Homo sapiens: one gene and its partners. The protein of the gene in region 2 interacts with the protein of the main gene of each other region in a biochemical or structural test. Each region holds a gene or a part of one and is shown on either strand. Other genes may lie near its edges. The genes, in order: PLEKHA1, SNTG1, DTNA and SNAP23.

What was found.
Region 1: the proteins of SNTG1 (region 2) and PLEKHA1 form a complex in vitro, tested with the Homo sapiens proteins (2 studies listed by BioGRID and IntAct, with this or other methods).
Region 3: the proteins of SNTG1 (region 2) and DTNA form a complex in vitro, tested with the Homo sapiens proteins (one study listed by BioGRID).
Region 4: the proteins of SNTG1 (region 2) and SNAP23 form a complex in vitro, tested with the Homo sapiens proteins (one study listed by BioGRID).

What each region holds. Positions count from the first base shown.
Region 1 is NC_000010.11:122,370,868-122,377,733, reverse strand, and holds the start of PLEKHA1 (pleckstrin homology domain-containing family A member 1), read right to left. Parts: upstream 3,027-6,866; 5' UTR 2,928-3,026; exon of another isoform or gene 2,773-2,927; intron 2,394-2,772; exon of another isoform or gene 2,175-2,393; intron 2,157-2,174; exon of another isoform or gene 1,633-2,156; intron 1-1,632. UniProt on the Homo sapiens protein: Binds specifically to phosphatidylinositol 3,4-diphosphate (PtdIns3,4P2), but not to other phosphoinositides. May recruit other proteins to the plasma membrane.
Region 2 is NC_000008.11:49,914,382-49,921,409, reverse strand, and holds part of SNTG1 (gamma-1-syntrophin), read right to left. Parts: intron 6,437-7,028; exon of another isoform or gene 6,388-6,436; intron 1-6,387. UniProt on the Homo sapiens protein: Adapter protein that binds to and probably organizes the subcellular localization of a variety of proteins. May link various receptors to the actin cytoskeleton and the dystrophin glycoprotein complex.
Region 3 is NC_000018.10:34,705,950-34,713,306, reverse strand, and holds the start of DTNA (dystrobrevin alpha), read right to left. Parts: upstream 3,010-7,357; 5' UTR 2,862-3,009; intron 1-2,861. UniProt on the Homo sapiens protein: May be involved in the formation and stability of synapses as well as being involved in the clustering of nicotinic acetylcholine receptors.
Region 4 is NC_000015.10:42,498,613-42,505,640, forward strand, and holds part of SNAP23 (synaptosomal-associated protein 23), read left to right. Parts: intron 1-7,028. UniProt on the Homo sapiens protein: Essential component of the high affinity receptor for the general membrane fusion machinery and an important regulator of transport vesicle docking and fusion.

The DNA of each region.
Region 1 (6,866 bases), on a different chromosome or scaffold from region 2:
AAAAAAAGTTACTTAGGGTCAAATGGTTTAATATTGCTCAGTAAGTGTAAGAGAGTTCTAGTGCTATAACAAATAACAGGATGCTTTATGTTTACATAAAAACATCCCATATTTTTATGTTTCTAAAAATAATTAAGCATTATAAACAATCATCTAAAGCTACCAAGTTTTCTGCCCTTTCTGAAAGCATTCCTTTCAGACACCATGTCAATAAATTCTTAAATGCTGGATGTGTACTCACAAATGGTCAAAAAACCTAAAACCAAATCTTAATATTTAACTCCTATTGAAGTCATTTTATTGTATCATTGCAGATCTAAAACAAGATTTTTTAATCTTGAAATTTAAATTTTAATATTAACAAAAGTAAACTGCTCCAGCATGAGAAAAGTAATTATTTGCATATTACCTCAGCTCACAGTTGGAATCAAATAGGAAATACTTTAAGGCAGTTAGTTATATCAACCCAAAATTTTCTAATAAAAGCAATGTTACTATTGTCACAAATAATTACTACACTATATTCAGAAAACTATCTTCCCCATTCTCAAATAAGTTATTTAAACAATAATGACTTGACATCAAGCAATATGTCAATGTCAAAGTATGACTTAAATTATATTAATAAACTATTTATTAGATTTCATTCTGGGTTACAAATTATCACACAATTAAAATAACTTCGGGATTTGCAGCATGACTAATAATAATAAAGAACTTCCAGGCTTAAGTCAAAAAGCCACTTTGTTTAAATCTCCATTAAATGTTTTTTGTGGGGGGAAGTCCCCATAAAAATGTAAAATGTTTCCACCTTTCCCAAGTATCTTCCTAGGAGTGGTCAATATTGTCATATCCTATATGTTAGCAAACGATACTTGAATGACTTTTAAAGAAAAGAATCCAATGCTATTCTTAACATCCTTAAACACTTCTAAAAAGGTCCTTCCGGCTTATGAACTCATGGCAGTTTCCTCACAATTGTATACTTATCCTGTTTCACTGTCTCTCCTAGTCTATGACAAACTCAATTTTACACACCATCTTTCCTATTTTGTTACACTGCTAAAACTGGGGAGAAAAAAAGATACAAACCTGCTACTTTCCCCCCTCCCAAAGCGACAATGAAAATACTAATTAACAAGATAAAGATTGGAAGCTCTGCGCGCGCCCGCGCGGTGTGTATACACATATATTTATATTATATATATATATATATATATATATATATATATCTTCTTAATGTCACTAAATTCACAGCCATATATCTTGATACAGGTATACGCTACAAGAGAAAACTGTCAGTAGATACAGTGTAAGGTTTACGGCAGTATAAAATAAATTAACTACTTTATTAATTCAAATTCTGTCAAACTTAAATACTCTTTTTTAAATGTATCAGTACTCTAAAATGCAATTTTCCTTGGGAAAATTGGCCAAGATAAAAAATACTTTAACTCCACTAGGGGAAATATTTCTTTTGCCACAAGTGTGTCAACAGGAAAAATTAAGAGCATGAAAAGTAAACAGGTATTTTGATCAGAATAAATCTTATTATTTTAATATAACGGGTCTTCAAGTTCTTCAGATTGTGAAGAAAAACACAGTTTCACAAAACAATCACATAACTCTTACCCAAACTTTGCTGTAAATGGTTTCAGTGGCATCAAATTAACATAGAAAGTATGCAAGCTGAGTACTTGGGAAAATAAAGCAGATTGATCAGGAGTTCTAAGATGAAAGACAATGGTGTAAACCTCATAGTGCACTATTTGTTCCAGTCATTAAACACACAGGAAATAAGATTTTCTATTTAGAAAACTAACTCACAAGGGGCAATGACTTCATTAAAACAAAGAAAATCTTATTAAAACAACGATCAATTGTAAAATAAGAAAACCAGTACTGCAGAATTGGAAGGTGAAACAAACAGACGAGGAAAACGCAGAAACTGCCTGGATATTTATTTGTTCCTTGAACCTCTTCTTGTACTGCCCCCAGAGAGCAAAGGAGTTTCATTATTTATACGCCCAGACCACGGTAGATGCTCTGCGCGGGGGCACAGCCTCACCAGAATTCTACCAAAGGCGGTAAACACTATAAGCAACAGGACCGCTTTCATTATGACACACTTTCCCCTCTTTCCAGGAGGTCAATAGAAAGCATCTGAAACAAACCACAAACCACTCAAGACGGCCCCAAAGCTCTGCGGTTGGCAGCTGGCCTCGGCGTCGAAAGACCTGGGTCTGGTCGCCTCCCCGGTGCCACCTGCGTGACCTTGGGCAAGTCGCTTTCAACGCTGCCTCTGGCCACCTGCCCCGAAGGTGCGGAGGTAAATCGCGGACACCGCCCGACTTCAGGGCCCAGGGCGGAGCCGGCTTCGGCCTCGGCAAGTCCTGAAGCCAAAATGCATTAAACACCAGGAAAGGATGCCCGGGGACGCGCGCCCCGCGGGCACAGCCCTGGAGGGAGGCGCTCCGACCGGCGCCACCGGGAATCCCCGGGCAGCTGCGCGCACCGCGCCCCGAGCGGGATTTCTCGGGGGGCGGAGACGCCGAGGAGCTCGTCGGCCCCGCGACCGCCGCGGGCCTCCCGCCCTCCCCCGCCGGGCGCCGCTGAGGGCTGACGTCGGGAAAACAATCGGGGACCCACGGGAAGAAGACGCCGCCCCCTCCCGCTGCCCCAAGCCAGGGCAGGTGAGCCGGCCCGGCGGCCTCCAGGTGCTGTGGCGCGTGGCGCGGACGTGCGCAGAGGGGGCGCCGGCTCCGCACTCACCAGCACCCACCGCCCCTCTGCGGACGCCTCCCCGCTCGCCACAGCGGGAACCGCGCTCCAGCAGCCCGGCAGCCCCGCAGCCGCCGCCACCTCGCGCCTGGCCCCGTCCACCACCCCTGCTCCAGCGCGGCCGCGTTCTTCAAGCTAAACTTTACCGCGGCCTCGGCCCGGAGCACCCGCGCCGCCGCGGCCCCGGCTCCCACAGAGGCTCGGCTGCCCGGAGCGGCGTCCGCGACGGCCAGCCCGCGCACTGCGCACGCGTCCCCACGCTGCCTCAGCCCTCAGACGGCGGCTGAGATTCCGGAGCGGGCGCTCCCAGCCCGCAGAGACTACGAGTCCCGGCAGGCCCCGCGCGGGTCCCTGCGGCGTGGCGGGCCGAGTTTCTGGCGTCTTCCTGGTTCCAGCGGCGGCGGCCTCGGCGCGCCGGGGAGGCCTGCGCGCGGAGCTCTGGGCCGCCGCGCCGCGGTGCTTCCTGGTATTCGTAGTTTTTGACCACCACTGGGCTTGGCTCGGAGGTAGAACTCCGGGTTCTCTGATGTCATCGCCTAGAGCTGCGAGGAACAGGGATCTTTAAAAATAGGCTTCGTTAGTTTGCAGATAATTTGTTTGCAAGCTGTCCCATAATCGGTCCAAGTGTCACAAATTTACAGGCTGCGGTGTGACCTGGAGAAAAACGCTTTACAGCTCTGCGCGCCAATTTTTCGCTCTTCTCTCTCCCTGCAAATGTAGCTCCACTGCCTACTTACAATGGTGTTAATAGTACAGGAGGGTAAGAGAGACTTAAAGAAGGGTTAGTCGAAATTCTTTCAGCAACGGTGGAGCATAAATATGTATTCTGGTAAATATTCGTTGAGTGTTTAGCAATTTCTCGAGCACTTAACTGTGTGCCAAGTACGCGATAGGCAACCCGGCATTCATCTGAGAAAGAGACACTGTCACTGCCCTTATGGAGCCTGCAGCTTGGGGGAAACTCGTCCGCAAACTAGCAAAATCGTTCCAGATTTTAATAGAATGGCCAGACTGAGAAAGTTCAAGAGACAGTAGCGGTGGCGGGGACGGGGGGAGGCTCTTCAGAGAGAGTGGCAAGGCAAGTTCTCTGAGGATGTGATATCTGAGCTGAAACCTGAAGAATGAGAAATATTCAGACAGGCAAAGAACTGGGAAAGAATTACATGCCACGCCTTTCACAGCGCATGCCACTCTAGGCTCTTAATAAATATTTGTTCTTTTTGTGTGCTTCTTCCTTTCCTCTCCTTGCACAACCTTAGATCACATCCTATCCCCTTCAAACCCTTTAAAAAATCTTTATCAACATCTTTTAGAATATCCTTCCTATGTGAAAATGTACATGAAACAAATGTCCAGTGGTAAGACAAGCTGTACAGCTGCTAGGACAGAAGACACAACCCTGGTGACAGGCTGGAATCTATCTACTTTGCCACTTTCTTTATTTGCGAACTGGGTTAGAAGTCTGGGGGCTCAGCCTGGCCTCCTGACTTGTTTCTCTTCATGGGGCATCATACAGGATTTTGAGTTTGTCTTTATTAAAATCTTAGAGGAAGCCTACCTGTTATCTGAATCAGAGGTGTAGTGAAGAACAGCCCTAGATTTTCCTGTGTAGACTTACCTATGTGACTTTATGCAGAGAGTGACACTTTGCCCTTCTGACCCTCAGTGACCTCGACTGTAAATGAGTGTCATCCACCCTGCCTGCCTTGCAGAATGTTCTCAGAGTCTGATAAATTGATGGAGGTGAAAACATCTTGCAAACTGCATAGAACGGCTCTCTGACTGCCTCTTTGAGACTTAGCATTTTCAATTGCCTTTCATCCAACGTGATATTTTGGTTATCTTTTGAGAAACCTTAGCTATGCAGCCTTGCTGACATCTGTCCCTTTTGGGGTCCTCATCTGTATAATGGTTGAAAGGGTTTGGCCTCACTATAGTTTATAAAGTAGCCAGAGCAGATTGTTTCCTTTGGTCCACACAGTGGGTTTTTGTTGATTTAACTGAATGTGTGGTTAACATTTAAAAATAAAAATCTAGGTGTCACCTGTCTTATCCCTGTAGGCATTTGAGTTTGCCTTCCCTGGCTAGAAGGTCTGGAAGGAGTCTCTAGCTTGTCAGTGCTAGAATCCTAGAAGATTCCAGATGGGAAATTTGTTTATTTGAAATTCAAAGTCAAATTCACATCTTTTATTTGATCTGAAAATACTGGTCCTGAGAATAGAACACTTAGGCCAAGAGCCTCTCACCCTCTCCAGGCTGGACCCGCCGGATCTCTCTCCTAAATGTTGTTTGACATCATTGATGAGTGGTTTGAAATTGTTCCTTTGGCCAATGTGATGGCTCCTGCTTGTAATCCCAGCACTTTGGGAGGCCAAGGTGGGCGGATCACTTGAGGTCAGGAGTTTGAGACCAGCCTGGCCAACATGGTGAAACCCCCTCTACTTAGCCAGGCATGGTGGTGGGCACCTGTAGTCCCAGCTACTCGGGAGGCTGAGGCAGGAGAATCAACTGAACCCACGTGATGGAGGTTGCAGTGAGCTGAGATCGTGCCACTCTACTCCAGCCTGGGGGACAGAACGGGACTCAAGAAAAAAAAATTGCTCCTTTGTTCTTTTTGCATAACAAGTCCCCAAAACTGTTTATCATTGAGAGCCATATTTACATACAGTAAAGAAAGCCAGAAAAGTAACTCAGTTTGCCCAAGGACACACAACAAGATAATCCCAGGACTGCTTTGAGGTTGCAGTATAACCAGAACTTCATAGCTCCCGATCAGCCAATAAATACAGAGACAAAAAAAAAAAGCTCTCTGCTTTTCTTCCAGCCTCTTTTTTTTTGGATGCAGAGGTTTATTACATAACAGTGCTTTCAGTGCTATTTAAAAAAAAAATAGTACAGGGAAATTACAGTCTGGGAGCAAACCAAGAACACTCAGGACTCACTGAAGGCACTGAGGAATGCTGGAATATTCCATGGCTACTTTTCATCTGAAGAAAAAGGAGGAGTCTGAATTCAAGGATCTATAGTTTAGCTGTTTACTTTTTTTTTTTTTTCTGCCGGAAGGGACAGAGTCTCGCTCTGTCGCCCAGGCTGGAGTGTGGTGGCACAATCCCAGCTCACTGCAACCGCTGCCTCTGAATTCAAGTGATTCTCCTGCCTCAGCCTCCCAAGTAGCTGGGATTACAGGTGCCTGCCACCATGACAGGCTAATTTTTGTATTTTTAGTAGAGTCAGGGTTTCTCCATGTTGGTCAGGCTGATCTCGAACTCCTGACCTCAAGTGATCTACCCCCCTCCTCAGCCTCCCAAAGTTCTGGGATTACAGGTGTGAGCCACTGCCCCAGCCTGCAGTTTACCTTTAAAGTATCACTGTCATCATTATCATCATGCTTTGCACGTGTGAAGTACGTTGATGTTTCATTCAAAAATAGCTCTTGGGCCCCTTCCATATGCTTAGTGCTGGGCTCTGGGGCTTCCAGACAGACGTCAGCCCCTCTGACAACACAAAAAGCAGCGTACAGAGGCACGCAGAAAGCTCCTGAATGCTAGTCACCTCTCTAATATTTGATGTCTGCAGCATTTCCTGCATTATCTTTTTCCCCTTAGCAATGGTCACTTTTGTACATATTATATATGTGCATATATATTTTTTTTTCTGCATATCCCTCTAAACTGTAACCTCCACGTGGCCAGGGATTTTATGTTTTGTTCCTGCTTGTATCCTTAGTGCCTACAACAGAAGTATGTGTTGAATGATGAATGCCACAGTCCCCTTTATGGACAGAGCCAGCATCAGAAGCCAAGCAGAAGGAGTACCTCCAGAAGCAAACCTCTGTTCTAACCAGAAATCAGAACCAAGATAGAACAAGAATTAAACATGAACTGAACACTCTCTGAACCCGGCTTTGTTCTTTTTGTGTCCCCTCCAGAAACTGGGTAGCAGAGAGTTAAAAACGGCTTTTCCCTATTTTTTAGTGTAAAAATGGCACAAGAACTCCAGGCAGCGAGTCAGTGGAGTTGCTTCTGTGGGTGAAGAGTCGGAGCTGGCTTTCTGACCCTGCCTCACAACTGGCAATGACCAAGTGA
Region 2 (7,028 bases):
GAAATCGTTCTCTCCAGGATGCCCTGTGATCTGCTTTTGAGCAAACCCAAAGGAACCTCAAACATCCATTCCTTTCACTTCTGTGCAGTATCAACACTGTTAACCATGGTATGTTTGTTAGAACTCCATGCATTTTCCTTTATACCTTTCCCCTACACTTTCTACGACTCTTTTATGACCTTCTTTTCTCTTATTTTTTTCTTACTTTTGAAAGATATTTATGTCTGTAAACAATTGTTTTTCTTTTATTCTCTCAAATAGCTAATAAATTTTCATAGCTTTAGCAGTAATCTCCACTTCGGTAGCTCTGAGTTAGATAGGTCAGGTTTTACCCTCTTTCTAAAATTAATGGGTTCTTCACCTGCATTTGGTTGTTATGTCCTCTCATTATCCATTTGACATGTCCCATGTCAGATATCACATCTTTCCTTCCAAAGAAGCGTATTTCACACTTACATATGTGAGCATTTACCTAGTACACAAAAACACTATCTCATTTGGCCTCCTCCTGATTCTTGTTTTATTTGATAGCGGCATCACTAACATCTAGTCATTTAGTTTTAATAGGCTAATTTCTAACCTTCACCCAATTAGGTCCAGCTCTCATCATCTCAAGTCTGAATTCTGCAATAGAATCAACTCTGGTCCACCATGGTTCCCTGAAGCTTGTAAAATATGACTTTCAACATGTGATTATGCTGTCCAAAAACCTCTCTGTTTGTATAAGATTAAGATCAAGATAACACATGAACCCTTCAAGATTCTTGAGAATCTAAACGCCTCCAGTTACTTAGTTAGTAAAACTAAAGTCAATGAAATTCAGCTGTTCTGTTTGTTGTTGTTGTTGTTGTTTATTTGTTTTTTTATTTATTTACTGCAATCTAAAGCAAGTCAAGCCTATAATAGGTGTTATAAGAAGAGAGGCAGTTTTTCTTCCTAAACCACTTATGAATAGAAAAGCATTAAATATTGATCCTAAATCTCAATTTTGACTTAATCTATAGAGAAGCATTTAACTTTCCTGGAGCTTGATTGTCCCATTTGCAAAACAGGAATGAAAAAGTCAGCTTCCTAGTCCTGCTGTGAGAATCACATGAGATTCCCTAAAACAGGACTCTAACAATCATGTATAACACATAGAATGTGAGAAAATAGTATTACGAACGGAAACTAAAGTGTAGGGTTACATTTTCCCAAATGCATTTATTATGCCCTATGAAGACTTTATACTGAAACTTCTAGTTCCAACTTCAAGGAGATTTCTTGGAAAAGAACACAATATGGAAAATAAAAGCAAATGACTTAGGTAGATAATGGACATATTTTAGTTTTCTCTAATCGCTTAAAAGGATTCTTAAGTTGAGAAAAAGATGTGTTTGAAGAGAAAAATAAAGTTAATTTATGAAGTTAATGAATTGGACAAACTACCACAATCTGACTTACTTTGACTCTAAGTGTGCGCTATTGTATTACTCTTGATTGGCTCATCTATAATAATGGTGTAAAATGTACACAAGTAGATTAATCTACTTTCGGGAGTTTTACTTCTTCAAGATTAAAACCAGACCAGGAAAACAAAAGGGAAATAGTCTAGCTAAGCTGGAACAGGCTCCACCATGTGTTAAATAAGGAAATATCATTTAAAACTACTGAAAAAAGTCACCAAATATAGAAAAAATAACTGTTCTGGAATAACTATTTTTTTATCCCCAATGATTTTTTAATCCACTTGTGTGTCCTTTTCATATTATTCATTTGTTAATAATATAGTAAAAGGACACCCACAAAACTTTGATATGTTAATTACATTTAAAGTCAAACATTTCATCTTAAGACATTCTTTCCTTAGGAAAAAAAAGCTTTTAGAGAAACAACAAGCCAATGAGCCCACTTTTGCTGAGTATTCCCTCAGCAGTAGATAAATTCAGTGACTTAGAAATCTTGGGTAGATTCTTCACTAGCATTGTAGAGGACAAGTGTTGTTCTTTTCTATCCTTTAATGTAGTCTCCCCTTTCACTGAAAACTGCACTATGCTAGTCATTTGTGTTCTGGGAAGAGGGAATATTTGCAGATATTAGTCAATAACTAATACCCCTCAATCAGTGTGGTTTTGTAAAGCCCATCCTACTTCAAGATCCAGCCCAATATGTAATATTCCCTTGGTCAATCCCAGTACATCTACTGGAACTATTGAGGAAGTGAACTGGATTTGGGAAGGAAACACTGTAGAACTATAACTGGTAAGGAGGTGAGTAAGACAGAGAAAGAGATGAAGAAGAGAGGGGGAGAAAAGAGACAGACAGAAACAGAAACATAGACAGGAGTGAGGGAGAAAGACAGTGAGAACAGAGAAAGAGGCAAATGTTATCACGTAGGCAAACCGTACTTTGGAATGAAGACAACACTGAAGAATGCGGATAGTATTTGAACACTTTAATCAAGCCATACCTGCTATAATCTGCTACTGCATAAGCCAGTAATTCTCTTTTGCAAATATATTTTTTATTTAGTTGCTTATTTGGATTAAGCCACTTTAAGCTGGGATTTTGTCACTTCTAGCAAAAAAAGAAATTAAAATATACAAATACCAATTAGGCAAAATAAGCTCCTTTTTTTCCATCAATAACTGCAGAATTGTTTTTCCCTTTGGCACAGTCACTATTAACAAGGATTAGAAAAGAAGAAATTACAAAAAAAAATTGCCATATATCAAACCAAAGCATAATCTTATCCATCCCTGTGTTTGTGCGGTTGTGTGGGTGTGTGGACTTACATCACCGAACATACAATAAGACATCTGCCTCCAATTTGTGAAATCCAACAGAATATTCTATAGAGTGTGTTATAATTTGCTGATGAAATGTAAAAAATAACTTTCTAAAGAAATTATCTGTTTTTACACATATGAGTAGGCACAAAAGTAGAAAATTTGTATTCTGGGAAGAAGGGATATTTGCAGATATTAGTCAATAACTAATAATCTTTTCTTAGTCTCACTGTTAATCAAGGTTATTATCTGGGTTATTGTAGCTGTTGCATGTGTATGAGGGGCAAAAACAGTAGCTGGAAAAGATGCTGGAATAAAACATATTATGTAATATTATTGACCTATCTTCATTCCTATTTGTTCTATGAGTTAATTTTTCCCCACAAAACTTTTGCCCATTCAAAAACATGAAGTATCTATTTTATCTCAGCCACTCATTATTTTTTAGGTTTATTTATTTTAAAATTGTAAAAACATATTAAGATGAACCTTTTCATCAAGTCGTGGTTCATTGTCTCATTTCTAGATAAAAACAAAAAGGTCTGGAAAAAATCTGACTGAATATCTCAGTTTAGGGTTTCTATTAAATGTCATTGAAATGGGAAACGAAAAGGTTCGGCAGCTATGTGTGGAATCTAGCATGTAGTCTGTTTCGCTACATGCAAAATTTTAACAATGAAATTAGGTAAAGCAAAAAGTAGATTTCACACAAAATTCTCTATTTTCAGTTCTCACGTTTTGTTCTAACTGAGCAGAGCTGAGTCGAGGACTCTTGACGGGCTCACTTTCTGCAGTGTGATGCAGATCTCACTGGCTAGCCTCCCTCCTTACATGAACTGCCTGCACCCTGAGGGCATTTGAATTTACAATCTATGCAAAGAGATATAGGTTTGAATAAGAAAACAGAAAAGGGAAAGTCTAGAACAAAGCATTAACAAAAGAACTATGTGGTGATGAGGATAGTATGTTTGGAAGAGAATATAAAGCATGGGGGATTTATCTGGAGAAATGAGAGAGCGGTAGTTGATCAGAGCCATGTGCATAGACTAGTCTAACAGGCTAAGTCATAACACTCACCAGCTTCAACAAATCCCGGTCAATGTACTAGCCATTGTATACAATTTGCTCATTAACTGTTCCCAGCAACACACTGCAGTGGACATCAGACTTAGAGACTTCACATTCCTTGCCCAAGTTTTTGTCATTAATGCCATTTCTATAACAGGATTCGAACTTAAGTCTGATTCTAAATCCCATGTATGTTCCACCATGAGAGCACGGAAACATTTTCAAGAAGAATGGCATGACAGATGTGGAAGGAAAGTTTATGAGTTCAACTAAACATAGACATTGTTTATTTTCTCATGGACATAATAATGATTTACCAATAGGACCAAGGATATAGCTGAGCAGTTAAATTAAGATAAAGTGATTTACCCAAGTCCACACAACCAATTGATGACAAACCATGTTGAACCTCAGATTTTGTGTGTACTGGATGCATTTTTAACCATAAAATACTCTTTTCTCATCTATGATCTAAATTTCTTAATCTCACATACTTATTTCTCACCCCTTGAAAAGATTCAAATAAAATTTATTATTTTTAATATATATATTTTTTTGAGATAGAATCTCATTCAGGCTGGAGTGCAGTGATGTGATTATATCTCACTGCAGCCTCAAACTGCTGGGCTCAAGTGATCCTCCTACCTCAGCCTCCTGAGTAGCTGAGACTACAGGCACATTCACCACACCCAGATATTATTTTTTTATTTTTTATGTTTTTTTTTTCTATTGAAGAAACGAGGTCTCACTGTGGTGCCCAGGCTGGTCTTGAACTCCTGGCTTCAAGTGATCCTCTTGCCTCGGTATCCCAAAGTGTTGGGATTATAGGCATGAGCCACTGTACTTGGCCTTTTCATAGTTTTATATAAGTAACACATTATTGTTCAAATTTTGGCACCATTTCTAAAAGATTTCTATTTTCTATTAGCTTATTTAGTGAATTTACCAGGCAAGCACTTATTCTTTTAAAAAACTAAATCTTAGACCGAAATTGTGAGTAAATTTGTTAAACATAGAGCATATAATTACTTCACAATTTTTAATTTTAAAAATATCTTCAAGTATGTACATTACATATGATGAAGTGATAATAAGCAAGTATTCAAATGAATTGATTTAATGACACTCTTTTTGAAAAAAAATATAACATGATCACTTTATCTTTGCTGACAAATTGAAGACCAAATTCAGGAGACCCAAAATGATTTTCTGACTCTTTCAGTGTGTAGAATGTGCTGAAGAAACTTCACGGTGAAAATTTAAGGATAATTCAAAGATAAATTCTCTGGCCTCAAGACATTATTTTAATGACCTCTTACTCTCAGTTCTTTTTCATTTTATGTTTTTGACTGTTTCTGGGTTTTTGTGTGTGTGTGTGTGTATTTGACAAAAAAAAATCTGAATTATATTACTAAGTAAGTGATGATATAATTTTTTATCGCTGGTGCAATTATATAATTTAACCACAAAACAATGCTGGAAATAACTGTAACACCAAACATTGACTTATATTTCCTAAGAATACTGTCAGTATATTTTTAGTGATAGTCTAGAAATCTATACAGACCAAATGTTGATAAATTACATTGAAAAAATCATAGTGACGTTTAAAACCCGACTAAGAAAAGCAAATAAGCAATGAAATACTGCTTATTCGATTTTCTAAAGAGATGTCCTAAAGAGGCCTATGAATAAAATCTAGGCTTTCGACTAAATCAAAACAACATCTTAACAGCATTTCCAGGCTAGCCCCTTAGATCAGCCCGCATGTTGTCCACATTTCACTCCATGCTCACAAGCCAGCAGTCAAATCACAATGCTTTCTGTATGTTTTAGGATATGGAGTTTTGAAGTGTATTTCATCGTATGAGTTTCCTTATCAATATCACTAATGACAAACATTAATCCTCCTTTATAAACTAGAAAATTATGACACGACATGATAGATTCTTTGAAGGTCAAAATGAAAGTTGTTGAAATAGACTCAGGTCAACTAAGTTTGTCCAATTGATATAGAATGTGGTGTCAGTTCTGAGTAATAAAATATTTTTGAAACCAAGTCCACCTTCATTGAATATCACTTATATTTATACCATTAAGAGATGTAAAGGAAATGACTGCTGAAGTATCAGGGAAGTATTATATTCCCTATGCTGAGAGTTGTTAAGTATAAGGGATGTGCCTGTTATTTAGTAATTAGTGGGATTTTTTTTGACGAATGAATGAATGCTATTGGAAATTATTTATAATAACTCACAGATATAACACTTGTTTCCAAAACACTCTCAAAATCATTGAATTTCGACTTTCCAGTATCCCACAAAGTAGGCATCATTCACTTATCTCATGAGTGTTCAGGTATCAGCTGTATGTAAATTATTGTGTCTTCATTGAAAAGTAAAGAATCCCCAAATTTAAGGAAGAAAAATTCAGCTGCAGTGGATTGAGTGACTTGTAGAAGATCTTATGGCCAGCAGTTAAAAAATTCTGATCTTTTGACTGTCAAGTAGTACTTGTTTCCCTACAACATGATGTGTAACATGTTTCTTACCACAGGATGTTGTCTCTTCCAACACATGCTATGTGCTCACTCTGCTAAGCTAAATAGGAAGAAAACACCAAATAAGAGATCTCTCTCCATTTGAATTCTATTCTATAACACACTGTACAGATTTCTGGGAAGGTGAGATTACTATGGAAATAATTTCTAGCTTACAATATGCTTTTTTCTTTCCTAGTGGCTTTTGTGTTGCTTAACAGAACTAGGTGAGTAAGCAGGCTAGCTGCTTGGAATTTATAAATCTTTAAGTGGTCAAAAACAGCCAATTACTAAATATTAGCAATAGTCATTTTTTACTTTTATATTTTTTGATAAATGTTTGAACTTGATTGAAACCCAAGTAAATAACTCCAAAGGCAAACTGTGAGCATTAAAATCCAATACGATTTCATGGTATGAATAATTACATTAGAATATACAAGTAATATTTATATAGTCTATGCAAAAATTAATCAAGAAGTGTTTTTATAACATTTTGGAAGAAGGCAATTGAATGGATTCCAGGGCTCATTTTAAATTATCCTCTGGTCCTATATATACTTTACATTTTCTAGATTATGTAATCCCATCTCACCTTTCTCTTTTGAGTCTCAAATGTAAGCAACAGCCAACAACACTTAGTCTTATCCAAT
Region 3 (7,357 bases), on a different chromosome or scaffold from region 2:
ATTTGAGGGTTAATTTCTGAGAATCATACTACCCATTAGTAATTTCCACTTTCCTTCTAAGAGCATTGGCCTTTTACTACACAAAGAGGCAAGAGCTTTCTAATCTATCTTATTCTCCAAATTAATCATTATTGTCGTTATCATTATCATCATGATCATGGTACCATTACTTTCTTTTTCATTTGAAAAGTCTTAGATTTCTAAAAAAAAAATCCAATTCTTTTCATGTCAAAAATTACATAGTGGTCAATAATAAAATTCACCTTAATAAAATCGGAGGTTAAAAAATAACTCCTAAAAATGGAGTATCTAGATGATATTGAGTCATCATTCATTGGCTTGATCTTCATCTATTTTAGAAATATTTTCTTGGAATTTAAATATCATTAATTTTTTAGCAGAGGCTATACTATTTTACTCAATATGGTTGTTTTTTAACATGTTAAAAAACTGTTAAATATCTGTCTCCTTAGTAGAGGTAAATGTTTGCAGATAATTATCTATTGGTCTATGACTCTAGGCAGCTCTAGAGATTAAAGCTAAAATGTTAACAAACACTACAAATTATTCAAAATTAACAAGAAAGCATAATTTAAACAAGAGTTGAAACAAATACTGTACAATTAAAACATCCTGGCAAAATTTACAGTTTAAAGCAAGTACATCAAAAGTCAATTTTGCTTCTTAAGAATGAAAATACCAAAACAACTATAAAAGAATCTTCCATCTTGTGATCTCTGTTAAAATTATTTCAGAAGTTTTTGTGTACATATGGTCTAATGTCAGATGAATAAAGATCACAGAAATTTGGGCATATCTTGGTTTTTACACACTTGTAGCTCTAATATCTAAGCTGGCTGGTAGCCCATAACTACAAAGACTGAGACAACCTCACTGTAGATTTTTTTTCATTTTATTTAATAGAAAGGAACTATCTATACTTTATCATGTATTTTAAAGATGGAATAGTGAAATAAAAATACTTTTTAGTAATTTCCCTCATCCATACTACTCTCTTCTCTGACAGATACAGATTTAACCCTTTCCAGTACCGGCGGGAAAGAAAAATGCTTGGGTAAGAGATCATTTACACTTTTATCTTTACCTTTTGTATATCTTTTCATTTTTTTGTCTCTCTCTGTGTCTCTGTCTTGCTTCTTCTTTCCCTCTTTTATTTTTCTTTTAATAAAACATAACACTTTCTACCTCAGATATTGTCAGTTTCAATAATTTCATACTTTAGAATAGTTTACCAGGTACCATCTTTCACTGATTTTTAGAAACTCCCTATTCTCTAGTAGTAACAACTTATGTTTATGAAAATATCTCATGTTTTGAAAGACATGGTCATAGCTCATTTGTACTCAAACAACAAAGGGAAAAAGAAAGGAATAAATTCAGATACAAGCATGAACATTTACAATATTAGATGCTATTATAGTACTTTTGATATCTGTCATCATGGAAACAGTTCTCTTTATTTGAAATCATGGCAAATAATTTTTTTGAATAATGATTATAATTCCTTGCTTAAACTTAGAAAATGGCTTGGACATATGGAAACTAGAGAGATCAAGGAAATAGCGACGAAAATCACAGAGCATAAATAAATTTAATAAAATCTAAGTTTTCCTTTTGTAAGAAAGCATGCTGTATGAACAAACTTGGGAAAATTTATTGGCTTTTATCCTAATTAGTGCCAATTAAGGGCACATAATTGATTTTAGTTCACTAAGAAAGTATTTTTCAAAAAGATTTTCCTATATCTGCACTTTTTCAGGTGGACAGTGAATACACTAGAATAACAGTAGGGCTTTGCTACTATTTAATTAGGTTTTATTTCTAAAAGCTGCTAAGACAGCTTTGTTCTAAGAGGAAGGAAAGAAGTTGCATTAAGTAAACCCCTGGCTAAAATTAGAGTAAATCCTAATATCTTATGAGAAAGTCAAACATCAAACATCAAACATCAGTAAAAGCCATGAAAAAGTAATTAAAATAAGTTATTATTAAAGAAATTGTTCTCCTTTAACTTGCTCTGTGTGTACCAAAGCCTCCCATTTTGAAACAAGCTGCCAGGGTGATATGTAAACAACGCATGAGAAGGCGTCTGCGCTCTGGGAATTGATGCTCCACACAGCCACACTGAATTGTTTACATTCAGTTCCTACCAGCCTCTAAGCAAAAGAGTTCATTTTGCACTCACCCATGTTGTATTTACTTCTATTTTTAAATCCTGTATCACACATACAGCCACAATGCCTAAAAGATTAGAATGCTAATAGAAATAATAGATGTTTTAAAAAATATAGATAAAACCGGACTATACATGTTAGATGAGGCTCGCAATAATATGATGAAAGAAAAACAAAAGCTCACATACAATAAACACACTAGATAACTTTGCTGGAAAACTTTGTCCTACTGCTTAATTTAGTAGAAGAGACAAGTAGCTTTGGACAAATGCCACTAATAAGGTGTCCTCTAAGAAAAGCGGACCATTTTCAAAAAACAAAACAAGAAAACACTTTGTTCAGGTCTACGCTGATTTGAAGACACCAGTTATTGCATTCTTATTACTTCCTTTGCAGTTTTCTTTCTTTGACTTACACACACACACACACACACACACACTCCCACACACACACACTGCCATAAAACTATAACATTTCACAACATCTTAGACTTTCAAATTAAAAACAGCTGAAACCGGAGGTGGAGGAGCTAGGAGGGTGGGCAGGAGAAATTTATCGGGTGCCCATGTGGGGGTGGGGGTGGGGGCGACAGTGAAATTCCACCCAGCAAGTTATGCCACTGCGACAGAAGTCAGAGAGTTCAGTTTCATAGATTCAATTGTACCTTACCTGGTTTTGTAGTTAAATGCACCAACATGCCCCTTAATTCTTCCTCTGAAGTACTACATATGCTGAAAACTATAGTATTTGACCTTACACATTTCCAAACAAACTCCAAAGTAACCTTTAACTTCAATAAAAAGCTGTGTTCATTCTTCCCCTTGTGCTCAACACACAGCAATCTAATACACCTCATCATGTGGTCCGTTACCATGGTAGCAATGAATCCAGCTGCTGAAATACAAAAGACTGACAAAAAGTTGCTTTTTTCCCCTCCACCCACCCTGACAAAGTCAGATTTTTTTTTCTGTATGACAAGTCTAATTTGAATATGCTTCTCTTGCTGACTCAACTTCATGAACAAGAAAAAAATAACAGAAGTATAAGAATAAAAGGTTTCCCAACTAACTAATGAAATATCTCTATGCATTTTAAGTCACCATTAATCTTTTGAAATACTGATCATTATCTACTACATCAGCCAACTAAATATTTTTAAATGTCAGTTACTAACTCAATAGGAAATGCAGCAATAATCCCACAGCTCCTTTAGAAACATTAAAAAATGCAGTAATGTATTCAGTAAACACAGATGCTGAAAACACTACATCAGTGTATGAAGGGCTAGTTTCAAAGTGCTTTTTTTCTAGAGCAAACTTCTAATCACAGCTTAGATGTGGGAGGTAAAATTCTTCATTTTCTTTTCATCAAAACCCTGTGTTTAACTGTTATTTAAACAGATTTCAGTTCTTTTAAAATTTATCATTTAAATTTAAAGCAGGCAACACAGCCTGCTGGAATCGATCAGGCTATATTTGCTGAGGTGGGGAGGGCTCTATATTAAGAGCAGCAGTCTTGGATTTGAAACGATACAAACTCTGAGCAATCCTGGGACTCCCCAAACCAATGGCTATGTAGTTAGGATTTAAGGAATCACCTTCAGCGCATTACCAGTCCTTTAGGGAAAAGCTGAAGGAGTCCCAGGTGACTGGAGCTTCCCCGCTTGCCAGCATGTCAGCATGGTCCTTCCTCCCACCATGGTACATTAATCAGCCAGTGGGTGCCCCCGTCCTCCAGGGATGGCTACTTCATCCCTCAGGCCTCGCATAATCACTCTGCTCTTGCACAACCTTCCTTATTTCCCAAACTTAGCTTACATTTCACAATAATTTGTTTGCATATCTATCTTCTCTCTTTAGAGATGGACTCCCAGAGGAACAGGAACATTGTCTTACTCATCTTTCTCTACCAAGTAACCATCAAAAGACTTGGCACTAGGTAGGGCTACTTCTTCAATGGATAAAGATGGCATCTGAAAGCTTTCCCTCAACTCCTCCAGGACTGTCTTCAGAGCATGGCTTGCTGTGGTTAAACCCTTCAGAGATCTGCACAGAATTTTTCTTAGTACATCACATCACAAAGAGAGGCAAGGCAGAGGAGTTCTTAAGAAGAGCAATTGTGGAATCAAGCAGATGCGGATTTGAAATCTGGCTCTAGCCCATACTACTTTTGTGATCTTGGATAGGTTACTTAACCTCTCTAACCCTCAGTTTACTCTTCTGTAAAATTCCTACTTTAACAAGGAATGGAAATGGATTAAATGAGATAGTCCAAGGGAAGCACCAAGCTTGAAGCATACTAAATGCTCAATAAATTCTGGCTAGTATTATTTAGTCAATATGTGATTTTTGAACAAGAGGGACCATGAGAAAGCTGACTGGCACGTGACTTCCCTTTGCTGAATAAACTGTCATTTTCAACAAGATGTGCATTAACAATCCTATGTTTCCTAACATAGGTTTACATAACAACACAGCATAAATATAGAGACCTTTTTAGGCAAAGAGCAAGGGCTGCTTGCTCCAACCTACAAACCAGCTAGGAGCAACTGATCAGTCAGAAGGTTAAGCATATTTCTAGTATGAAATGGACTGTGGGAAGAATGTTAAACATGGTAGTTAATTTTTTTCATCTTTAAATATGGAAGAAAAACACAAGTACAGCAGTTCATTGTGGTATTCATTTTGGATTCTTAAAAAATGGTCTATATGTTATTTGTTAATGATACTTTCTCAAATTAAGATGAACTGTAAAGAATCTTCATCATAAAGGGCTTTAAAATATAAATTATATACATAGATTACATTTCTAGTAATTAACCAATATTGTGTCAATAGAAGCCTTTACAAGGTCACCTTGATCTCTAACAAGTACTGTAAACTGCTCACCAGTGTAGACTTTTAGCTGCTTCTCTCCATCGTAATCAAATTCAGGAAATTACCTGACACCAAAGCCAATGGTATAGGAAAATTAGCATTAAAATCCCTTTGAAGAATATGGTACAAAGAAGCAGCCAGGGGTTAAAAAAGCCTGTGGTAGAAAAAAACAATTTTATTTTTCATTGCAGGAAGTTACCAGAAAGAATAAAGTGAATGTTGCACATTGCAAGATTTCTCTATCATTAAAAAGTAAGTAAGAAAGAAAAGCCCCACAACAAATCAGTTGGGATGATTAAAATAGCTTTGGCACTGCTCCAACCTTGAAAAATCCTTCAGCGCGGTGACTCATGATGATCCAATCCAAAAAAATGTGTGAGGCCGACCAGGCAAAAAGGCAAGGAGCAGCTACACCGGAAAATTAGCACTCCCTAATCCTCTTCAAAACAGTTGATGAAGGAGAGACTATTTGAATAATTTGAACCCCAATTTGAATAATTCATACCTATTCTCATGTGTGGCTGGCTGAATAGAGACTCTCACTGACTGCATTCATTTCATCAGGAGTGTTTACCTTGTACATTTTTTTCCCCTGGAGATTGGTTATGTGGCCATTACACGTATCTAATTGTTTTTCATTTTGTAAATGTAAGAGCTTATCATTTATCTAGTTAAGGTACACTGTTACTAGAGCATTTAATATGATTGATTGCCAAACAGAAGGTGCATCCTTTGTCAGATGTTAAAGTGACTGTTGATTCTTTAACCCCTAGGGAATACGACGCCAGTATATTTGGTTTCACAAAGTTTTAAATCCCCTTTTGCAAATGTTAAAATTAAACTTCCCCCTCATGTGAACAAAATATGCAACATAATCTGTGCTCTTGTGACCCACTTAATTTCATATGAAGAATTCAATCACTTAGAAAAAGTTTTTGAGACATAGGTAATGATGCTTCAGAAGGTACCCCAGGAAGTCAATTTGCCAAATCCTAGTCCCATAGAAGCAGGAGGGAGCTTCAAAGTTATATGCTTCACTGCCCTCTCTTCAGATGTGAGAGCACCTAATTTCCTACAAACTCAAGGTAACAACATGGGCTCAGAAGTCACGCGCTTAAATTAAGCAACATGGCTGCAAAAAACGTTGATGGCCAATGTTAATGAAATTAAAACAAGCAAAACAATTTGAACCTCTGAAAATGCAATTTTCACATCATAGTTAAAAATTATTATTTATTTTTTCATACCACAAAGTGCTTTATTGTTAGGGCACTGGTTTAAATTAAAAAAGAAAGTGTGTTGACAGCAACAAAAAAAGATTGTGATCTACTGAACAATTTTTGCAAGCACATTGTTTCTTGGGCCACTTTGAGCAGCTGACCTAAAAAATATTAATCGGATTAGTATCTATTCTGCTCATAAAAATTTCTTATGAAAGAACAAGTCTGTTGCAAGCCATCTCAATTTATACAATTTAATATCAAGATATTCTATTTTACCCTTAAGATATTTCAAACATGCACTTTTCCTTTGAATTGTAACAATGGGGCTATAAATAATAAGGATTTCTTTATGTTTTTCTTCTGTGAGTACATCACAGAAAATATCCGTTTTTAAATAACACTATGAAATTGATGGCTCCATATCTTACAGATAACCTATTGTGAACTCTGAATCATTTTGCCATATCATTTTTGGAAATTTATCCTCAAGCCTCTGTTTTTGTATTTTTTCATGTGTTTAAAAATTATAATTATATACTTATATTCTGAATGTATTCTTAGTGAAAAATACGTTGGTTTTTAAACTTAATAATAAAAACTTGTAACTTTCCATGTTCTCATGAAAAGATAATGTTACATGTCCATTGTAGAGAAGTTGAAAAATACAGAAAACATTTGTGAAATAATATTAAAAGCACTTATAATTCAACTATCAGAAATAACAAGTATCAACATTTTGATGTATTTCTTCATACATTAAAAATTCATGGCTGGGAGCGGTGGCTCATGCCTGTAATCCCAGCACTTTGGGAGGCCGAGGCGAGTGGATCACCTGAGGTCGGGAGTTCAAGACCAGCCTGACCAACATGGAAGAACCCCGTCTCTGCTAAAAATACAAAATTAGCTGGGCATGGTGGCGTATTGCCTGTAATCCCAGCTACTTGGAAGGCTGAGGCAGGAGAATCGCTTGTACCTGGGAGGCGGAGGTTGCGGTGAGCTGAGATCACGCCACTACACTCTAGCCTGGGAAACAAGAGCAAAACTCCATCTCGAAAAAAAAATTCAG
Region 4 (7,028 bases), on a different chromosome or scaffold from region 2:
TTTTTCCCATTGTTTTGGTGATTAACATTCAGCTCCTTGTTACTTAACGCAAATTTCTACAGCTGGCTTAAATTTCTTCTCTTTGCTTTATAAATTACTTGGTGGTCTCAGCTCAGTGATCCAGTGATCTGAGTGATCTCAGGAAAAGAAAGAAATATTAGCAAATAAGAGAAACACCTTACATTGCCATACTCCTTTGACAGGTCATGTGAAAGTAATTTAAGTGATCATATCACTTAGCCTGCAGCTTGAATATTTGTCTCAGGCTAGGTTTTACTTTAGGTGCTTGTAGTATGTGTTTATGCACTAGAAAGTTAGTGTTATCATAGTTCCAGCATAAGGATGTCTTACTGTGCCAAATAAACAGTGGAATTCCTATATGTATCTTGATATTTGTTTCTTGTACACTGAATGAACTTAGGTACAATACACACAAGCCCACTTAACTAAAGGTCACATCTTTTTTTTTTTTTTTGACAGAGTTTCACTCTTGTTGCCCAGGCTGGAGTACAATATCTTGATCTAGGGTCACCTCAATCTCCACCTCCCGGGTTCAAGCGATTCTCCTGCCTCAGCCTCCCGAGTAGCTGGGATTACAGGCAGGCGCCACCATACCTGGCTAATTTTATATTTTTAGTAGAGACGGACGGGGTTTCTCCATGTTAGTGAGGCTGGTCTCGAGCTCCCGACCTCAGGTGATCCGCTCGCCTCAGCCTCCCAAAGTGTTGGGATTACAGGCGTGAGCCACCGCGCCCGGTCTAAGGTCACATCTTTTCTAATCATTTAGAACACAACCTAGAACCAGAAAGAAAGTAAACAAAAACAGGCCTGTACTCATGGGACAGCTGTGGAGTCTTCACCTATGAGTCATACCACCATCATAATTTTTGCCATTTAGAGTACTGTTGTTATTTTACTTCATGTTTAATGGGTTTTTTAAAAAAACATTGCCCACTTCCAAAGTGATAATCTGTGAAATCATGGTTTTTATGTATTTTATAGCTTTTTTAGCATCCATTATAATAAATACATAACTATTAAATATATAACTCTTTCATATGTAACAGTTAAAATCATATTCTTGCTCAGCACTTTGGAAGATACTGCTTTGGGCCTAATCAGCTCATTTTTAAAATGAAGATTGAACTAAAGCTTATGGGCTTGAAAATTCTGTGATCTCTATGATGATGTTCATTATCATAACACAATTCTAGCAAAGTTTACTGGTTCCACCAGATGAAAGTAGATTAGGGCCGGGCGGTGGTTCATGCCTGTAATTCCAGCACTTTGAGAGTCTGAGGCAGGAGGATCGCTTGAGCCCAGGAGTTTGAGACCAGCCTGGGCAACATGCCAAGACTGTCTCTACAAAAATTTTTTAAAAAACTAGCTGGACCTGGTGCCCAGTGCCTGTGGTCCCAGCTACTCAGAAGGCTGAGGTGGAGGATCGCTTGAGCCTGGGAGGTCAAGGCTCCTGTAGATTAAAATAACAAAAAGGAAAAAGAGGATGTTTGCTCTTTGATATCAGCTGCCTTTTTTTTTCCCTGAATTCAGGCTTTCCCCCGCCCCCGCCCCAATTTGGTTCCTTTATCTGCAACACTCTGGACATCTGTTTTTGAGCTATGTTTGTACTCCACATTGTGTATATATTAGCATGTATAATATTATAATGTTGCTTATCTCCAAGAGTGCTGAACTTTTTATTCCATTACTATATTTTGTTTCCAGATCTGTAGGTTGACAGACGGGCAGATGACAAGGACTGCTCTTTTCTTTTCCCTTTTTTTTTTTTTTTTGAGACAGAGTATTACTCTTGTTGCCCAAGCTGGAGTGCAATGGTGTGATCTCGGCTCACCGCAACCTCTGCCTCCTGGGTTCAAGTGATTCTCCTGCCTCAGCCTCCTGAGTAGCTGGGATTACAGGCATGCGCCACCACGCCTGGCTAATTTTTTGTGTTTTTAGGAGAAACGAGGTTTCACCATGTTAGCCAGGCTGGTCTCAAACTCCTGACCTCAGATGATCTGCCTGCGTTGACCTCCCAAAGTGCTGGGATTACAGGCATGAGCCACCTCACCCGGCCAGGACTGCTCTTTTTCTTTGCTGTGATAGGTAGAAACTTGAAACAGAAGGATCCAGTGCCTCTAACAATTAGAGGAAGTGGATTATGGAGCCAGGAAACAAAATGTACTGTGTTTTTTTAAATAGTAAGAGTAGAAGAAGCCCATTTGTATTCATTTAGATTCACTGACATTTTGGTTTGGGTTTCAATTTAGGTTGTATTGCTACTAAAGTATTTAAATCACTGATTCCTATGTTTTTCCAGAATTCTCTCTTCTTGTTGCTTTCTGTAAGTTCTGTAACTTAGATGTAAAGTTTGTTTAAATTTATTTTGACAGTGTTTTGGAAATTGAAATTACTTTCGATGGCCTTTCAATACTTATAAAACTCAAGCCAGGTGTGGTGGTGTGTCTGTAGTCCCAGCTACCTGGGAGGCTGAAGTAGGAGCATCAGTTGAGGTCAGGAGTTCAAGACCAACCTAGGCAGCATAGCAAAATAAATTTCAAACTTCTTGGTATAGTATACAAAGCTCTTCACAATATGTGTTCTGTCTTGAAAGCCATCCCCTGCCCTCCATACATACACACACACATTATATTCCTGCCTCACCACTGAAGCCTTACATTGTGGCTTTTTCTTCCTTTTTGATAATTTAATTTAAAATCATAATTTTTTGGACTTGATCATACTTGGATTTTGACCCACACAAATGAGAATCAGGGTGTTTGTGTTTTTTTGTTTGTTTGTTTTTTAAGACAGTCTTGCTGTGTCACCAAGGCTGGGGTGCAATGGCATGATCATAGCTCGCTGCAGCCTCAAACTGCTGAGCTCAAGTGATCCCCCTGCTTCAGCCTCCTGAGTAGCTGGGACTACAGGTGCACGCCACCAGGCCTGGCTGATTTTTTTTTTGTTGTTTAATTTTGTGTAGAGATGGGGGACTTGCTTTACTACCCAGGCTGGTCTCAAACTCCTGGCTTTAAGCAATCCTTTTGCTTTGGCCTCCTAATGTGCTGAGATTGTAAGCATGAGCCATCATGCCTGGCCAAAATCACGAGAGATATTTCATAATTATTATGAAAAGTTATAATAGTTTTATTGAGCACTGTGTGCCAGGCACTGCTCTAAATACTGTGCTTGAATTAGCTCAATCCATGTAACAACACTTAAAGTAAGCATTATTCTCATTTAATGAGGAAACTGAAGCACAGAAAAGTTAACAGTAATCAGGATTTGAAACCATTATGCCTTCAGATATTGGGCACATAACTACTATACTATGTTGTCTTTTGTATAAGCAAGAATGCCACTCTTTTCTGTTGGGGGTATCCTTTCCAGGGACGTGAGTGCTTATATTCTCTCTTTTTTTTTTTTTTTTTTTGAGACGGAGTCTCGCTCTGTCGCCTAGGCTGGAGTGCAGTGGCGCGATCTTGGCTGACTGCAAGCTCTGCCTCCCAGGTTCACGCCATTCTCCTGCCTCAGCCTCCTGAGTAGCTGGGACTACAGGCGCCCACTACCACGCCCGGCTAATTTTCTGTTTTTTAGTAGAGACGGTTTCACCTTGTTAGCCAGGATGGTCTCGATCTCCTGACCTCGTGATCCGCCTGCCTCAGCCTCCCAAAGTGCTGGGATTACAGGCATGAGCCACTGCGCCCGGCAGAGTGCTTATATTCGCTGTCTGTAGCTTCTGACTCTTAATATCGGAATATTTGAAAAACTAACCAGAAAGCATCAAAGTGGCTGGGTGTGGTGTCTCACGCCTTCTGGCATTTTGGGAGTCCAAGACAGAAGGATTGCTTGAGGCCAGGAGTTCAAGACCAGCCTGGGCAACATAGTGAGCCACCCTATATCTACCTAAATAAATAAATAAATAAATAAAGCATCTAAGTGAACTTAATCAGAGCTAAACTATGTGGATGGTTTCGGTGAATATTTCATTCAGGCAGGGTGAATCCTTGCCAATTAATCTCACCCCGTACTTGGTATCTCCCTGGCAGATACCACACTTATGCCTGCCACATTGTCTCTTCCTGGGTAGATTGCCAGCTTCTGGCTCTTGAGCCCCGTTCTTATCTTTCACATAGAACGTCCCCTTTCTGTTCACATAACCATTCTCATTGATAGGGTTAATAAAATTGATTACAATCAAACCTACATCTACCTCCCCAGTATTACTCCTGGGTCACTTAGAGTAGAATTGTGGAAGTTCCTAATTTGACAGGGACTTGAAGACCAGGCGTTGGACATCAAGCAATTAAGTTACCATAGGTGCTTCTGTAAAACTGAAGTTTAATTTTTTTTGTAATTAGAGTCAGGGTCTTGCTATGTTGCCCAGGTTACATTTAAACTCCTGGGCTCAGGTGATCCTCCTGCCTCAGCTTCCTGAGTAGCTGGGACTATAGGCCTGAAAATGTAATTTTGGTTTTCTTTTTGGTTCCTGATTTTTAGTGGGACTTTCCCATTTGTTAATATGATTTCTGTCTTGAATCTTGTGCTTCAGTGTACTTTGAAACCAAGCTGATTTTTGTTTGTTTTGTTTTTTCGTGTTGTTTTTTAAGATGGAGTCTCGCTCTGTCGCTGAGGCTGGAGTGCAGCGGTGCGATCTCGGCTAACTGCAACCTCCGCCTCCCGGGTTCAAGTGATTCTCCTGCCTTAGCCTCCTGAGTAGCTGGGATTACAGGTGCCCGCCACCACGCCTGGCTAATTTTTTTTTTTTTTTTTTTGAGATGGTGTCTCACTCCGTTGCCCAGGCTGGAGTACAGTGGCACAATCTCGACTCACTGCAACCTCTGCCTCCTGGGTTCAAGTGATTTTCCTGCCTCAGCCTCCCAAGTAGCTAGGATTACAGGCACATGCCACCACGCCCAGCTAATTTTTGTATTTTTAGTAGAGACGGGGTTTTGCCGTGTTGGCCAGGCTGGTCTCGAACCCATGACCTCAAGTGATCTGCCCTCCTCAGCCTCCCAAAGTGCTAGGATTACAGGCGTGAGCCACCATACCCGGCCTTTGGTATTTTTTAGTAGAGACGGGGTTTTTCCATGTTGGCCAGTCTGGTCTCAAACTCCTGACCTCAGGTGATCCACCCACCTTGGCCTCCCAAAGTGCTGGGATTACAAATGTGAGCCACTGCGCCTGGCCTGAAACCAAGCTGTTTAGTAGATACGATTCTGTGATGTACTTAGTATATTTGCATTTGAGTTATAGACTTTGTATGGTAAAAAGAAAAGAGTTTTTAAAAAGAGAAAAAAATATGTATGTATATTTGCATAGTTTTGGGGCCTATATATAAAAATGGTTAAAGTTGTTTGTGTAGAAGGAGATAGAAAGGAAAGCCCAGAGAGGAAGTAAAAGGAGGAAGCCATCCTTAACATAAAGGAGACCCTTGCCAGGCAAAGTGGCTCATACATGTAATCCCAGCACTTTGGGAGGCTGAGCCAGGAGCATCACTTGAGGCCAGGAGTTTGAGACCAGCCTGGGCAACATAGTGAGACCCTGCCTCTACAAAAAAAAAAATAATAATATAATAAAAGGGCCAGGTGTAGTGGTGGGCACCTGTAATCCCAGCTACTCGGGAGACTGGGGAAGGAGAATCACTTGAACCCTGGGGCAGAGGTTGCAGTGACCTAAGATTGCACCACTGCACTCCAGCCTGGGCAACAGAGCGAGACTCCGTCTCAAATAAAATAAAGTAAAATAAAATAAAATAAAAAGTGAGACTCTGTCTCAAAAAAAAAGTTGTATATAGCCTATACTTTATATCATCAACTTTAATATTCAAATTTAGCCTTGCAGATGGAACTATTAATATTTAGTAGCTATTACTTTCAGCTACATTTACATAAATGTGACTCATATTCAACATTGTTACTTTCCTTTTGTTTTGCCTACTATTTATTTCCACTTCAGTAAAAATATTAATATAATGGCTAACATTGAACACCGGCCATGTGCAAGGCATTGTACTAAGTACTTTGTGTAGATCATCTCTTTTTAATCTTCACAAAAAAAACAAAACTATAAAATAGAATGTTATCCTTGTTTTACAAATACAGAAACCGAGTTTTAGTGGTGTTAGGTAATTAACTTGGGGTCACACAACAAATACATTGTGAGGCTGGAATTTATATGCTGGAATTCCCACTCACCCACTATGCTATCCTGCTATAAACAGAAGTTTCCTCTTGCTGCGGATGCATTGGTTACCATGGACGTAGACTTCTATCAAGCCAAAGAGAATGCTGAACTTAAAAGTACAGTAATAAACCCTTTGAGTGTAACTCATTGAGGAGCTTTATTGTGATTAATTTTCAGAGAAGGAATAAGGCAGGAAACTAATTTGGTAGAATATTTTAGCTGCAAAATCCTTGTTTACCAGTATAAAAAGAATTATCTTATAAAATCATTCTTTGCAAGACCCTGTGAAATTGATGGTGATTTTTTTTTTCTTTTTTTTTCAGACAGTCTTGCTCTGTTGCCCAGGCTGGAGTGCAGTGAGTCTTGGCTCACTGCAGCCTCTGCCTCCCAGGCTCAAGCCACAGACGTGCACTACTGCACTCGGCTAATTTTTGTGTTTTCTTTTTAGTAGAGCTGGGGTTTCACCGTATTGGGCAGTCTGGTCTTGAACTACTGGCCTCAAGTGATCCGCCCACCTCTGCCTCCCACAGTGCTGGGATTACAGGCATGAGCCACCACGCCTGGCCTGATGGTGATTTAAAGTGCTCTTTCTTCATTACTTCTTGAGTAGCTCACCAGTTTTACAAATGAAGCCACATGGATCTTCCAAGGCCTTATTTAAATTCCAGGGCCTTTTTTCTGTGTATTTCTTTCCAAGAAGCTCATTTACTTTTCCTTTCTTCTTTTCTTCTCTTTTCTTTTACTTCCTTTCTGCTTGCATTTTTTTTTTTTTTTTTTGAGACGGAGTCTTGCTGTTGCCCAGGCTGAAGTACAGTGGCATGATCTCGGCTCACTGCGACCTT